Linked DNA regions of Homo sapiens: regions 1 and 3 are each linked to region 2. Evidence: fine-mapped expression QTL. Tissue or cell type: whole blood. Region 2 holds a variant in brackets; each other region holds the start of a gene. Each region is shown on its reference strand, or each on the opposite one. Region 1 holds the start of GFRA2 (GDNF family receptor alpha 2). Region 2 overlaps LPP (LIM domain containing preferred translocation partner in lipoma). Region 3 holds the start of MRC1 (mannose receptor C-type 1).

Region 1 (5,197 bases), not on the chromosome of region 2:
TCAGATTTTATAGTAGCCCCTTCAGAATGAGAGTCCACTTGCCAGGGTTGACAGGAAGGGCTTCGGGATCACAGCGGGCCCAGAGCAACTTCCAGCTTCCTAGAGGAGCCCCTCCCACCCCAGAGAGAAGCTGCCTCTGGCTGAGGGAGGTAGGACCTCTGAGGCCACACCCTAGAGCAGGGACTTGCCCCCTTGGGGACTCGCACCTGGCGGGAAGCAGAGGGGACAGGCAGAGAGTCCAGAGCCTGTGTGGACACCCAATGACTCCGGTCCCCTATCCTAGTCTGGCGAGCACTTCTTAGACCACGCACATCCTCCTGTAACCAGCTCCTACCTCCCCACTCGTGGCCTTCCCAGATCCCCTACTGCAGGAGGGAGAGGGTGAGATCATGACCCCGCTGGGCAGCCTGGCTCAACACTGGCTACACAGCAAGCCAAGGTGGTAGAACTACACCCTCACTGAAGCAGACGTGTGCTCCTTACAAACACACTCACACACACACACACATACACAGTAGTTACCCGGCTCCCTCTATGGGAGCGTCTACTCCCTGGCAGCAGCCCTGCCTGGGACTCCCGGTGGTGCACAGCCTTGCAAACAACCGCCTTTCCTCACCTCCCTCCGGAGATTGCCATTTCCCAAGCAGCTGCGATTTCACCTAGCTTTAAAGGGAGAGAGGAGCTGGGAATTCTGTGTGGAAAAGAAACTGCGTGGGGCTCAGTGGCGCCAGGCAGCCTCTCCTCCCTGTCTTGGAGGCGGCGGGGGGGGCAGTGGGGGGGGTTTGCAGAAGGAGCAGTGGTCTTTGTTCAGACCCGTTTTTCCTCCCTCGCCTCCCACCCTCTTCAACGGAGAAAGCAAACTTTGGCCTCCCTCCCGCCTCTTCCCACCAGCCACGGGGGTCCGCGGCCCCCAGAGGTGGAGGAGGGAAGGCCGGGAACGGCTGCTCACAACCCTCCGCTCCCGCCCACCCATCTGGCTCGGGGCTCGGTGGGGAGAAACTTGAAAAGTGTTCCGGGGAGTGGAGCCGCCGGTTAGGGGCTCAGGGCGTGGGGACGCGGGCTCCGTTTGCCAGGCGCGGCTGGCAGGTGGGGAGTGACTGCCAGCGCTCCCCGCGCGATGTCCAAGCGGGAGCCGCCGGAGAAACCCGCGCCCTCCACCACGACCGACTCGGGGAGCAGACCAGGAAAGGCGGACCCCGCAGGACTGTTCTCTCCCCGCCTAGGAGCCTCTCTCTCCCTCCCTTCTTGCAGATCAAGAGTTGGATATTTTTTTTTCTTAAGTTGCCGCAATTCGAACCCATTATTTCGGGGGAGATGCGCGCTATACTGGCGTGTGAGCGAGCGCGGGTGTGTGTGTGCGTGCACAGTGTCTGCGGGGCTGGTTCGGATGTTGAGTCTCCCTCCCGATCCCCCTGCGTCGCCAGCCAGCCGCGGCTCCGGTCCCTCGTCCGCGTCCCTGCCGCCCGGCCCCGCTCGGTTCGCCAGCACCGGGCCCGGCTAGCTCCGCGGCGCGCTCTCCCCGCCGACCTCCCGCCAGCCCCCCACCGGCGCTCCGCTCGCCCCCCGCCTCCCCGGCTTCTCGCCTCCCCCTCGAGCTCGCCGCCCGCAGGTACTCACCTAGAAAGAAGAAGAGGCAGAAGACGTTTGCCAAGATCATGTTAAATAAATCCCACCGTTTTTTTGTCTTTCTCCCTTGGGTAAAAAAAAATAATAGTAGTAACAACAACAATAATAATAGGCAAGCAGTGGTAATCAGCCCCAAATCCAATGCGGAGATCCCAGCTAGTCCACCCGATGAAGATCCCGAGTCCTGCGATTCTCGCCTCTGGCTGGAGGGGGTGGGGTGAGAGGCGGGCGATGGGCTGCTGCCTCTCGACGCCCCCCTTGCCCGCTACAATCAAATATACGCGTATCTGTGTATCGGCTTTCTAAGCCAACAGCCCAGTCCTGGGGTCAGCCCTCCCCTCCAATCGTCCGGGAAGGCGTGAGTCCCCGCGGGTCCAATTCCCCTGCGCTTCCCAGGAGGGGCCTGGGGAGGTGGGGAGAGAGGCGATTTGCGAGTGAAGGGCTGGAAGGAAGCGGCGAGGGAGGGGGTCGGAATAAAATGCAAATAGAAAAGAAATCCACAGACGGGTGTCAGCGCCCAAGAACAATCCAGTCGGAGCTTCGAGGACGAGAGACTGGAGTCGCTTCTTTCGCACCAAGACGAAGACAAGATTCAAAAAAATCTTCTCCCGCTAACCCTTGCTCGGCTCACTTTTTTCTAATGGAATTCCAGTGACCGTGTGTCTCTGCGTGCGTGTGTCTTTCTCTCTCCTCTCTCTCTCTCTCCTCTCCCTCGCTCGCTCTTTGCTCTCGCTCTCTCCAGCTCTCCCTCGCTCTCCTCTCTCCCTCCCCCTTCTCCCACTCTCCCTGCTCCTCCCTCCGCCCGCCCCCTTCTCCCTTCGCGGCTCCCTCGCCCGGGCTCTCGCGCCAGCGCCCCTCTCCTCCGCCCCGGGCTCGGCGCTCGGGCTCCCAGGCGGCTGGCGGCGCGGGGCGCGGGGCGCGGGAGCGCGGCGGAGCTACGATGCTCTGCAGCGGCGGCGGCGACAAGGCGAAGGCGGTGGCGGTGGCGGTGGCGGCGGCGGCGGCGCCGGGGATCGCGGGCCGAGAGGAGAGCCCAGCCGCCGGCTCCCTCGGCTCAATCGCCCGCCCTTCCTGGGACTGACCTGCTGCCTTGGCCGGAAACTGACTGGCTCCCCCGGCTACGGCTCGGGCTCGAACCCACTCAAGCGTCGGCACCCTCCTCCTCCTCCCCCCGCAGCTCTCCCCACCCTGGGGACCGGCTGCGCCCTCCAACCCCCACTGCCCCTGCCCCCGCCCCCTGCGCCGCTGGGTCTGGGAAGCCTGGGGAGCTGAGCTGAGGCTGGAGGGCGCGGAGTCCGTGGGGCCCGAGCCATCCGGGGGCTCGGGGGGCAGGGCGTTAGAAAAACCCCAGCCGGTGGCCCGGGTCTGAGGGGGGCTCCACCCTCCGTGGGCTAAGGCGTCCCTGCGCCCAGGAGCCGAGGCCGACAAAGCGTCTCCCCGATGGTGCCAGGGAAAGGAATTATCCCCTTCGGCGCCGGCCCCGCGCGCCCCCGAACCCAACGCATCCTGCCGGCCCCGGCCTAGCCCCGCGCGCACATACACGTGTGCTCTCCGCGCGGACCTCGGGAACTTTGCCCTCACGCCCGCGGCGCGCTTGCCTCCCGCCCGCCCCGGCCTCCACCCCTTCGAGATGCCCCTTCCCCAGCCGGTCTCCCCTCCCCCCGGCTCGGGAAGAAGCCTGCTGGGCCAGGGCGCCCTGACCACCTCCTCGGAGGCCGGCAAACCTGCCTGAACCGCCCCAGAGGAATCGGGCAGGGGCTCGCACCCCACCCCGGCAGGAGGGCCCCGAGACCGACCCGGGCCGGGGCTCCGCAGCCGGCTGGGCTCCGAGGAGCTCGTCCCGAGGCAGCTCCCGGCTCCCTAGGCTCCGGGGTTGGGGGGTTCCTCCTCCCCTAGCCGGGAAGGGGGCGATTGATCCATCTGTCGGTGGGCCGGGCTCACCGGCGTGTTTTAGTCGCAGAATTTACAATAAACGCCCAGAAGGACCTAAAAGGAAGCGTCTGGCTGGGAAAGGGCTGGAGGAGAGGTGCGGCTGCGGTCACGTTCCGGCGAGAGCGGGAGAGGCGCGGGGTCGCGGTCGCGCGAGGGCTCACACCCACGCAGCCCGGCATCCCCCGGCCCTCGCGCCACGTTCCTCGCACTCAGCTCGGCGCGCACACACGGTGTCCTGGGGTGGGGTACACGCAGCGCCTCAGAAACTTTTCGTGCTGCCCAAAACAATCTGGGCTGCACGTAACATGAATTTGATAGTACCGTTTAAGATGCATTCTTAAATAACAAGACTCTGGAATCCAGTAAATGCTAGAAATCGACTTGGACGAGAAGGGAGGGGTCACTAACAAAACCAGCAGCCTTAGCTATTGGGAAAGCTAGAGGGAGCAACTTCCATCTTGAGGATTTAGGCGGGAAGGCGGCTGCTCCCGGCCTTGGAAGCACAGAGAGCGAGTCTCCTGTGAACGCCTCTTTCCTGTGGTCCGTCCTGGGGCATCGACCTTCCTCCCTCCATCTTCTCCCCCAGCCATCCAGTTGTGCCTGCTTCGAGCCTAGGCCCTAGCTGGGTAGTGACGAGTCTGGGACAGAGGGCTTAGGGATTGGAGTTGGGGAAAGCCCCCTTCAGGCCTGCCCTCCCTGTCATTCCTCCAAGCCTCTCATGTTCTAGGAAGTGACTTCGCATCTGACAAGGTCTCTTGGCTTTTTTTCCAAAAATTGGGGAGCATAAGGAACCGGCTTTGGATAAGTGTAGGTTAAAAGATAAAACTTGACAGGAATTACACTGCCAGGCAGGCTTGGCCTGGAGGCCCGAGGCTGGGAGCCTGGCCTAAATGAATGTCCCCCCTCTCATCTCCTCGACTTCCAGGGTCTTCTGGTTGTCCAAATACTCCCCACCACCACCCATTTCGGAATCTCACGCAGGCCTTCCCCCTTCCAAGGACCCTGCTCCAAACTCCAGAATTTCTGCTCAGCATATCCCTCTCCCCTTCCCCACAAAAAAGAATTTCACTTTCTTTTAACTTCATTTGAGCATAATGAGAGAAATTCTCTGAATCATATATGTAGTTCTCCCCTCCCACCTATCCAGAAAATGGGGCTGAGAAAGCAGCAATGAAGCCCTGGGGATGGTTCTCACTGAGCTCCCACGGGAGTAGGAAAGAGGATTCCGGTAGCAGGAGGTAAGTGGCCCTTCTGCGACCCAAGACCACCCAGCCATCCCAAGAACAGTAGAGAACACCAATCAGTCACCACCAGCATTCAGCTTGTGTGACTGCAGGGCACTCTGACCTTGGACCCTCTCTTACCTACTGCCTATACAGACGTATCCCATGACACCCCACCCTCTGCCCACCCCAACACTCAACCCAAACTGCTCTTAAAAATGGCATCATCCCTTATTTCCTGAGCATCTGCCATGAGGAAGACCCCCTGCCTTGTGCCGGGATCTACAGAGGAAACACAGTTGAACATGTACTATAACACCTTATAGATAAGAGGACTTCTGAACCTCAGTCATCTCATCTATAAAATGGGGATTAAAAAAGATAAACCAACGTTGTAGAAATTACATAAGATACTA
Region 2 (5,225 bases):
GATACATATTAATCATCTTTATTTTTGAATTATACAAATATACAATACTATTGTCCCTCCGTATTTTACATCTGAAGAGAATTTAATTGCTTTTTTGATAATAAAAATAAACAGAGAGCCACAAAGAGATATCACCACACATGTATTAGAAAAGCTAAAATAAAAATTTGTACCAGATGCTGCTAAGGATGTGGAGAAATGATCTCTCACAATGCTGGTAGGCATGTGCAAAATTTTGTAGCCACGATGGAAAACTCTTTGGCGGTATTTTACAAAAGTAAACATGTACTAACCATATGACTCAGCAAATATACCCTTTGGCATTTAATCCAGAGAATCAAAATGTTATGTTCACGAAAAAACCTGTACATGGATGTTCATAGCAACTTTTTTTTTTTTATCATAATGACAAAACACTGGAAACAACCCAAATATCCTTTGATGGGCAGATGTTTCAGTGAAGTCTGGTACAGCCATACAATGGAATAATACCATTCAGCAGTAAAAAAGAATGAAGTATTGTTGGTATATGCAATAACCTGGACATGCTTAATGAAAAAACTGTCTCGAAAGGTTACATGTATTATATGATTTCATTTTAAGACAAAGCTCTAGAGATAAAGGACATATTCATGATTGCTAGGGGACAGAAATGGGTGGGTCGGGGGGGGGCAAGTACTGGTCATTCCTACAAAGAGGACGCAGCAAGAGTCTTTGTATGGGTGGAACAGATCTGTACCTCAATTGGAGTGATGATTACATGAATCTATACATGGGATAAAGTTACATAGAACTGTATGCACACACAAATCAATGCAGGTTATAAAATGGTAAAAACTGAGTAACTCCTAGTTAACAATAAGGTAACAATGTCAGTTTGCTGGGTTTTCGAATGTATTACAGCTTTATGAGCATTACCATTTAGGGAACCTGGGTAAAATGTACATGGAAACTCTGTACTATTTTTGCAACTTTCTATGAGTCCATATTTAAAAAAAAATTAATAATAGTAAAATAAAGGAATGCATATAGATATCTTAATGTATTCTTCTCTTACTCAAAGTGCTATCTTACATGCCATCTGAATTGCTTGCATGATACTTTGAAAGATCACTGCTATATGTATCCCTGCCAAAATGTATGGCTTAAACCTGTGGTTTTCAAAGCTGGCCAGTCATCAGAAAGACTTGGAGAACATTTTTCAAAAGAAAAAAATTAAAGCAAGTCCTAGGTCCCATCACAATTTTACAGAATCAAAATATCTGGCCATGGGGCCCAGGAATCTGCATTAAAACAAAGCAAAATAAAAAATAAAACAGAACTTCCCGGGAATTGTGATTGATGCTCAACCAACGTTTGGGAACCACTCATTTATTTCATTAACTTCAGGGACCAGTGCCTTAATCTCCTTTGAACCTTCTCCAAGTCCTGAGAGTGTACTCTTCCTCCCGTAGTTAATGATGGTAGCTTTTGAAGTCTTGAGAGTCTTTATCTTGTGAACATTGTACAGATTCAGAGACCTAGAGCATCTTTCATGTTGCTATTCTTTTCCCTCAGTGCTTTCATTATAGACACCAATCGTTTGCATATGTTGTCCTGGGTCATTTTATTTGGGATCCAAAACCAGAAAATTTCAAACAACAACAAAAAAATGGATTCTTCGAGAATGCCCTAGCCATGGACAAGCTTCTGCATTACAGAGCTCTTGCTATTGTGTTGCTTTGGGTAGCAATGCCTGAAATCTCAGCCAATTTTGGGTCACAGTAGGCCTATGTAAATTATCTAAAAATGGATTCATTATGGACATTATAAAAATAAATCTGACACCTGAGCCTTTGGGCAAATATACCATATAAAGAAATCATACCCTAGAATAACGATTAACCTAAAGAACTTAAAAAAAATCAGTATGATATTTTTATCATCCTTTCTTAAAATTACTGCATTCAGAGAGACCTGATGGCTGAGGACAGCACCTGGGGCAGAGGAGTATAGGTCATTGGGATGTGGCATCCTGAGTCTTCTAGCAGTTTGCTCTTCCAGCACTCTCCCTTATTATATGTTCTTTACATTGTTCTGTATGTCGCTGTCTTCAAACAGAATAGATAAGTCTACTAGTCAAGATAGACATATAACAGGCACCACATGTGCATAAAAATTGCATTATGTAAATTTAGTGCCGTAATATAATATGAAGGATGTCCTCTAGGAGGAACTGGGGAAAGCATCACAGACGAGGACACATCTGATCTGAGTGTTGGAGAATGAGTTAGTTGTTTACCAAGCAGAAAAGGGTGGTGGACAGCATGGCATGCCAAGTAAAGGGAACAGCATGTGCAAAAGCAGAGAATGGCCCCCATCCTGACCCTTGTAATTTTGGCAGCTCTTTGCTGATGTCCTCAGGCAATGCATCTGGGCTCCTGGGAATAGCTTTGCAATGTGAACAGAGTGACTTCACTATGGGTAGACCTAAATGTTCTAGCGTGCTCTGAAACTTACCTCTAGAAATAGCTCCAGGAAGTTAGGTAGCTTCAGAGAGGAAGGACCAAGAAATATGATCTTATACCACAGGCAAGAAGTACTTTCCTGGAGGTACTGGCCAGAAGTACTATTGCTATCTCTCTGCACTTGTCTGTTATATTTTAGAATGAAATGTGCCTGTGCATACAAATGCTAAGGCAAGAAAGAAAAAGCAAAAGGCAATTCTCTTTAAATCTCCTGAAATAATTTCAGGCAGCTTTTTTTACCTAGTCAAACACACACGCTTAAGAATGGAGTTGTAAGCTAACTTAATCATTTTTTGTTTTGTTTTGCTCTCTTACTTGTTCACACGTTGGGGTAATCCTGAGAAAACAGGAAGCAATGAAAGAAGGATTTTATTG[T/A]GAAATGTTCATTACAACTTGTAATTTTAAAATGTGTTTGTATGAGTGTGCACAAATGTGAATAAATTTTAGAGCACTTTCTCACATAATATCTAGTTTAATCACCAGAATATCCTGCAACGTTATTATAGTTCCTACATTATTATGGTTCCTAAAGACAAATGAAAAATCTGTGATTCAGAGACCCAAGGTTAGGCTAATAAATGTAGAAGTCACATTTGACCAAATTTTAGTATCTTCCCTTAAGTATTGGTAATGTACGATAAACACTATTTGGTAATAATGAATTATTACAATTACTAAAACAACTTATCTGGCAGAACAGTATCTTAACTATTTGAAAAATATTGTAGTGGATTTATTAGCTTCCATTTCATCTGAAGTCCACTTTGCTTTACTGCTTACTTTATCTTTCTAGCTACTCTGTAAAAAAGTTATTATCACCCTCAATCTGCCAAGTATAATGTATGTAAAGTGAAATAACTAGCATATTGCAAAGCTGGGAATTGAACCCTTGTCTCCTAAATCCAAGTCTGTAGCTGTTCCTCAGCAGTACACTGTATCTCATGTTAATGCCATTATTACTTGTATTAAATGAAATAATTTTTCCATCATTATTTTCCCGAATTATTACTATCCAGAGCGATTTGAAGGTTAAGGTCATCCAAATAATGTGTGAAAATTGCTTAAAATCAATCTCCTGTGCATGGATGTCTATGATGTATACAAATATAAAACAGCCAAAGTAGTCTCAAGAAGTTATTACCAAGTTTCTCAAATAGTGTCTCAAGGCGACATTATTTGACAAGACCTTTGGAATAACCATTTGGAATTTTCCTTAGTTCAGTTGAATTGTGTCATCTTGCTTAAACTTTTCAGATATCAGGGGTAGTTTTATTGACATTACAATGGAATTAAAATGACATTTTATTTTATTTTTTACCGTTCTATAGAAATGGCATTTTAATTCGTCATTATTTTTATTATTGATCTGTTAATGTTGTAATGACTTGGGTTTTAGTAAGGGCATCCTCTGTAAAAATTACCTCCTGGGAAAGAAATCTCCAAGTTCTATGAGGTCTCCCAGAAATATCACCACTTGAGGTGAGAGTAAAGTGTCATGAATGCCACCCAATGTGATTCCTGGTAGATAAGATTTCACTGTTTTATATCTTGACATCTGCATTAAATTCCGTTCTTTTACTGGGTCCTATTCACTTCCATCTTGTGCCATTGTTACTTAACCAGGCTCTGTAGTGGACAGGAAAAAGTAAAAACACGTCTTAGCCCTTAAACAGTTTATATTTTCATTAGAAATTCAACATATGAAAATGCCCAGTTAACTAACAATATAAAGCTTTACTGTACAGCTTCTATTTGTGAAGTGACTCCATGGCTAACTCTATCAGAAGAAAGAGTTTGCTTGGAGCCAAGGTAGTATTGGAAGGTTACAGAGAAGAAAGACTCAGGGAGGCAGTGGTTAAGCTTGTAGACTCTGGCATCAGATAGATCTGGGTTTCGAGTTTTGATTTTACCTCTTAATTCTCTGGAAACTTGGACTCACCAGGATAAGTGGCAACCTAAGTTCTTTCAGTTTTAAAATAGAGATAGTTATGCACTAGGCGTGGTGGCTCACGCCTGTAATCCCAGCACTTTGGGAGGCCAAGGGTGGATCACCTGAGATCAGGAGTTCAAGACCAGTCTGGCCAACATGGCAAAACCCCGACTTTACTAAAAATACAAAAATTAGCCGGGCGTGGTGGCACACACCTGTAATCCCAGCTACTTGGGAGACTGAGGCAGGCGAATCACTTGAACACAGAAGGTGGAGGTTGCTGTAAGCCACTGCATTCCATTCCAGCCTAGGCGTCAGAGTAAGACTCCATCTCAAATAAATGAATAAATAAAAATAATAAATAAATATATGAATAAATGAAATAGAGATATTTGTATCTTAAAGAGTTGTTTTCAAAGTTAAGTCATGACAAAATAATGACAAAATCAGTGGAAGCTGCAATCATTGTTCTTGCTATTATTATTGAAATGAAAATATGAACATTAGCTCTGAGGGTTCTATCCATAGTTTTTTTTAAAAAATTCTGATTATAAAATTTTAATTATAAAATCCCATATAGCTCATGCTGACCATTTAAAAAATAATCTTAGTTGTATCCTTGTTTCTTTTTGTATTTGCTAATAGAGATTTTAGAATTGGCTTGGTGTATGTTTGTCCTTGCTAGAATTATGATTCCTTTTTTGAATTTGCATTACACCTTTGTTAGAAGTAGAATTACTTTACTTGAACTTTGTCAATGTGGCAAAAAATGATTCATGTTTATATTA
Region 3 (5,225 bases), not on the chromosome of region 2:
GGCCTAATTTGATCATGAGTAGAGGAGCACCTGCAGTTACTTCAGTCAGTTCCTGTCCATTTGATGGCTGCTTAGATGGAGGGATGAATTCCTGGAGTTTCCCACACCACCATCTTCTGTGACATCCCTTCCCCAAGATTTGGATTTATTTTTTGCCCCAGTGGCCTCTTGTAGCCTGATAAATCTTTGTTTCAACGAGGTCAAGGTCATGGGGTAAATTCTTTGTGGGGTGGTTGGCTGCATTTTGTTTAAACTTCACAGATTTTAGTACTGATCCTAATTTTTAATTTTACTAATGTGATATACACACTTATGTAATTAAAAAACAAACCCTGGGCCAGGTATGGTGGCACACGTCTGTAATCCCAGCACTTTCAGAGGCCAAGGCGGGCGGATCACTTGAGGTCAGGGGTTTGAGACCAGCCTGGCCAACATGGTGAAACCCCGTCTATACTAAAAATGCAAAAAATAGCTGGGCATCATGGCACGCGCCTGTAATCCCAGCCACTTGGGAGGCTGAGGTAGGAGAATCGCTTGAACCCGGGAGGTGGAGGTTGCAGTGAGCCCAGATTGCACCACTGCACTCCAGCCTGGGCGACAGAGCAAGACTCTGTCTCAAAGAAACAAACCAACCCTGAATGTGATTATATACATAATTCAATTAAATGTATTTGCTTCTGAAATATATATAAATGTAAATTAGGCAGTCACTTTTGTATATGATTTATTTATATTTGAAAGCCACAAATGACCCATTTAAACTATTATTTTCATAAGCCAGTGAAACAATGTCTGAGAAACATTTTTGTTTTGTCTGTTCTGTTCTATAACCATCATTTTTTTTTTCAGTCATGTACAGCCTTAGTGACAAAGAAACTTTGGTCCTCTGTCCTACATTTTCACTATCTTTTTCCCTCCGGTCAGGATAATCTCAAATTTACATGTTAAAAACAATCAGTAAGAGAACTACATCACATTTCTAATAGGATGGAAACTTTTCAACTTTATCACAAAGACAACGAATGTGGAGGCTTTCCGTTTGAAGATAAAACTATTCATTTAAAAAATTTTAAAAATTACAATGTTTCCAGTAGCTTCTTTTTGAATTACTAACATATTCCACACTCTAGTAACGGTTTGGCCAGCTAATCGTTAGTTTCTGCTTTAAAATGTTCTAAATTCCTGTTCTACTTTTGAAAAATGACAACATAAATGTTTGGAGGGTTATTTTCTGCTTAATGAAAGATCTAGAAACATATTTTATTCTAAGAAAGAATTCCACTTGCCTTTAAATAAAGATATACCTTTTGACCAAACAATCAGATTTTCTTTTTCTTTTTTTTCTTTTCTTTTTTTTTTTTGAGATGGAGTTTCGCGTCTGTCGCCCAGGCTGGAGTGTAGTGGTGCGATCCTGACTCACTGTAACTTCCACTTCCCAGGTTCAAACGATTCTGTTGCCTCAGCCTCCTGAGTAGCTGGGCTTACAGGTGTGCATGATCACACCCGGCTAACTTTTGTATTTTTAGTAGAGACGGGTTTTTGCCATGTTGACCAGGCTGGTTTCAAACTCCTGACCTCGGGTGATCTGACTGCCTCGGCCTCCCAAACTGCTGGGATTGCAGGCGTGAGCCATTGTGCCTGGCCAGATTTTCTTTTTCTAGCAAGGGGACCCACTTAAACTTGAAGAGGACCGGGATGGTTGAGGCTGGGCAGCAAGGCTTTACTGCAAATCCTTTACCACTGTTTTTTCTGGCTTTCTAGAGAACGTTCTAGCAAAAGGTTTCTAGAACTTTCTCCTTCCTGGCCTGACTGACATTCCCTCTTAGGTGTAGCCTCCTTTTCACTTTTCTTCTGCCTGGAGGAAATGAAGCTCCACGGAACTTTCTGTTGAAACTTTCCAAGAAAAAAAAGAAAGGCTCTAAGCACTGAATGTGGAAACTGAAGGGGATGAGCTTCAACTCTGAAGTGTTTCCAGCGTAAAACTGTCCTTTCCAGGGCCCGTGTGGCTGTCACTTCAGAGTGGAGGTTGTCTGCTGAGGGACCCCTGACTCAGCTGCTTCCCAGGGGAAGCTCCGTCTTCCGGCACAGGTAATGGCCTGCAGCTTGATCTCCACCCAGCCCCATCTGAGCAGGCCGGGAGCTCCCAGGCTGTTTCACTTCTCTCCTTCCTGACTCCTCACCATCACCATCGCCCTCTCTCCTCCCCACCCCGCCACTCCTCTCCCACACGTGTCCCTTTCTCCCCTTCCTCTGCGTCTGCTCTTCTCAGAAGTTAGCTTACGAAGCAAAGTTGTTACTTTGAATTCCTGTTTTTCCAGCCACCCTCATGTGACAGGATGTCTCCTCAGTAGAGGCTTTCCCTAAATTCAGGAGCCCTTTAAAAGGGAGGGCTTCCTCTGTAGTTCTTTTCAGCTGGGCAGCTCTGGGAACTTGGATTAGGTGGAGAGGCAGTTGGGGGGCCTCGTTGTTTTGCGTCTTAGTTCCGCCCTCCTGTCCATCAGGAGAAGGAAAGGATAAACCCTGGGCCATGAGGCTACCCCTGCTCCTGGTTTTTGCCTCTGTCATTCCGGGTGCTGTTCTCCTACTGGGTAAGTCTGCTCTGAGGCAGGGGATCTCTGACCTGGGGGGCCGGAACCACACCTTCCTCTTCTGGGTTACTGTGAATGGGTTCCTTTCAACATCTTTGTGAGGAGGAAACGGGGTTCCCCTGCACCACGCAGTCCACGGCTAAGCCTGCTGCCTTCACCTGGCGGCCAGGCATGGGAGGCCTGGAGTTGGAGGAGGGAGGAGGATGCGTCTCAGGTCTCGGTTGCTGCCCTGCCGGGAACCCTACAGACCTTCAGTGTCCTCCTGACTTCTCTCATCGCTCGTTGTTCCTTCCCTGTTTTCTTCGTGCAGAAATTTCCTGCTCTGTGGTTTACTCTTTCTGGTTTTCAATTCACACTATTTCTGTCTCACCGCCAACAAACACCTTCTGAGTGTCTCTGGCTGGAAGGAGGGCAGCCCTGATGTCTCCCCGCGTCTTAGGTCCGAGGGTATCATCGCAGATCATCCCCCCAAAAGAGATTCTAAGCAATTTCCATACTCATTTTTTTTTCTGCCAGAATCATTCAGACACTTGATTGTTAGAAAGTTCATCCTTATCTGTATTCTAGACTATTCAAACTGCCGCATAAGCAGATCGATTCCTGTTTTTCTTCTTTTTCTGGAGATTAGAGATTACTCATTAGGAACAGCTCCAGAGTTGTTCAAATTCTCAAATACCTTTTCCAGTCTGTCTTTTCTATTTCTCTATACTCAGTTGCTTAAACTTCAGGATGGGAGTGCCTCGGGGGATTTTCATTCCTGGTTCTATTTGGAGATGATTTAGAAGAGATTTCAAATTTGATTTTTTGATTTCTGATCCCCCTTTAATTCTATGAAATCAACAAACACTTGCAGAGAATGGTTTGTGCCTACGATCTACTCTATGCACTGATGTGAAGGCGGGTGGGAAGTTTCCTAGGAAGAGAGTGTTTTAGTACCGCAAATGTTAAATCATAAGTATTGAGTGGTAGTGATTACAAAAACACAAGTGAAGGCGGTATGGTTTACATCCTGTCTCTCTCACTCACTAGCTTTGCGACCTTGGGCAGGCTACTTTATTTCTTTGTGCTTTAGTTTCCATGTCTATAAAATGGAAAGAATAATATTACCTGCCCCCATCAGTTCTTGTGATGATTCAATGAGTAACAATATGTGAAATGTTTAGAACAGAGTATGACCCATAGTAAGTGCCTTATAAGTGTTAGCTATTAAAATCAGTGGCAGAAAAGAAGTACATAAAAGGCCAAATAAAAAGGATAGATGAAATTAATTTTATTTTTATTTTTGAGACAGATTCTCATTTTGTTGCCCAGGCTGCAGTGCAGTGGCATGATCTTGGCTCACTGCAACCTCTACTTCCTGGGTTCGAGTGATTCTCCTGCCTCGGCCTCCCAAGTAGCTGGGATTACAGGCATGCACCACCATGCCCAGCTGATTTTTGTAGTTTTAGTAGAGACAACGTTTCACCATGTTGGCCAGGCTGGCCTCGAACTCCTGACCTCAAGTGATCTGCCCTCCTCAGCCTCCCAAAGTGCTGGGATTATAGGCATGAGCCACAGCGCCCAGCCCTGATATTATTAATGTATTTTATTTCACCCAGTAACTCGGAAATATTATCCCTCAACATTTAATCGATTTGGAATATTTTCCCATTCATTTCTTAAAACTAACTCTTCAAAATCTGGTGAGTATTGCATACTTATAGCATGTCTCAATTCACAGTAGTGTCATTTTAAGTGTACAATGGTTACATGAGGTGACTGGCTATCATACTGGGCAGCACAGACACAGTGCCTAATTTTCTTTAAACTGACTCAATAATGCTTTGAGCAATAGTGTTTCTCGGTTTGCTCAGGAGTGTTTCCCTCTTCCTGACAGCAGGATGCCCTCCTCTGACTAATGTCTTCCTCTTCATAGGCACAAATATTGGGGAGAGAAGGGGGATGCTGAAGATCTGTTTACTTGGAGAATAAACAAACAAAAAATTCAAGGGACCCCCCTTCCAGATTTTTTTTTCCTACGTGAAAGCCTGTAATTTGTGTTGTTTTGTTTTTTGAGACTGGTTTCACTCTGTCACCCAGGCTGGAGTGCAGTGGTGTGATCATGGCTCACTGCAGCCTTGACATCTGGGCTCATGCAATCCTCCCACCTTGGCCCACTCCCAACTCCCCAGTAGCTGGGACTTTGGGCTTGAGCCACTATGCCAGGCTAATTTTTAATTTTTTTTATTTTTTTTTATTTTTGTAGAGATGGGGTCTCACTATCTTGCTCAGGCCGATCTCAAACTTCTGGGCTCTGGTGATCCTCCCACTTTGGCCTCCCATAGTGCAGGATGATAGATGTGAGCCACTGCACCCAGCCTGTAACTTTTATTTTATCTTTTCTTGGCCCGAGAAGCATGTGATTGGAGGAATTTGTGTAAAGGCAGGGCACCTGCTTAGTTAGCAGCAGGTTAAACTATGCGAAGCCCCAACACCTCTCCCCTGGCTTCCTGCCCACTAGGAAAACCCATGGGAAGGTCTCCCTACTTGCCATCAGTTTATTTCTTTTCAATCCACACCCCTTCCTTCCACCTTCAGGAGAGCATCCCACAGCATTAGCACCATAAGTCTCTGTGGGCTGCTGCCAACGGATGGGCT

The links. PIP is the estimated chance that this variant, and not a neighbour inherited with it, causes the effect.
Region 1: it holds the start of GFRA2, and the variant in region 2 is fine-mapped to the expression of GFRA2 in whole blood (TOPMed, PIP above 0.99).
Region 3: it holds the start of MRC1, and the variant in region 2 is the best candidate, but not a certain one, in a credible set for the expression of MRC1 in whole blood (TOPMed, PIP 0.66).

The regions. Positions count from the first base shown.
Region 1 is chr8:21,786,503-21,791,699 of GRCh38, forward strand. It overlaps GFRA2 (GDNF family receptor alpha 2), which reads right to left and starts at 2,373. Exons shown (of 9, transcript NM_001495.5): 1 at 1,618-2,373. The coding sequence starts at 1,657.
Region 2 is chr3:188,415,113-188,420,337 of GRCh38, forward strand. The region is part of intron 4 of LPP (LIM domain containing preferred translocation partner in lipoma); the gene reads left to right. Among named protein-coding and RNA genes, the nearest start is that of LPP-AS1, 150 kb to the right of the region's middle. The variant T/A (reference allele first, on the strand shown) is at 2,883.
Region 3 is chr10:17,806,939-17,812,163 of GRCh38, forward strand. MRC1 (mannose receptor C-type 1) reads left to right here and starts at 2,410. Exons shown (of 30, transcript NM_002438.4): 1 at 2,410-2,588. The coding sequence starts at 2,528.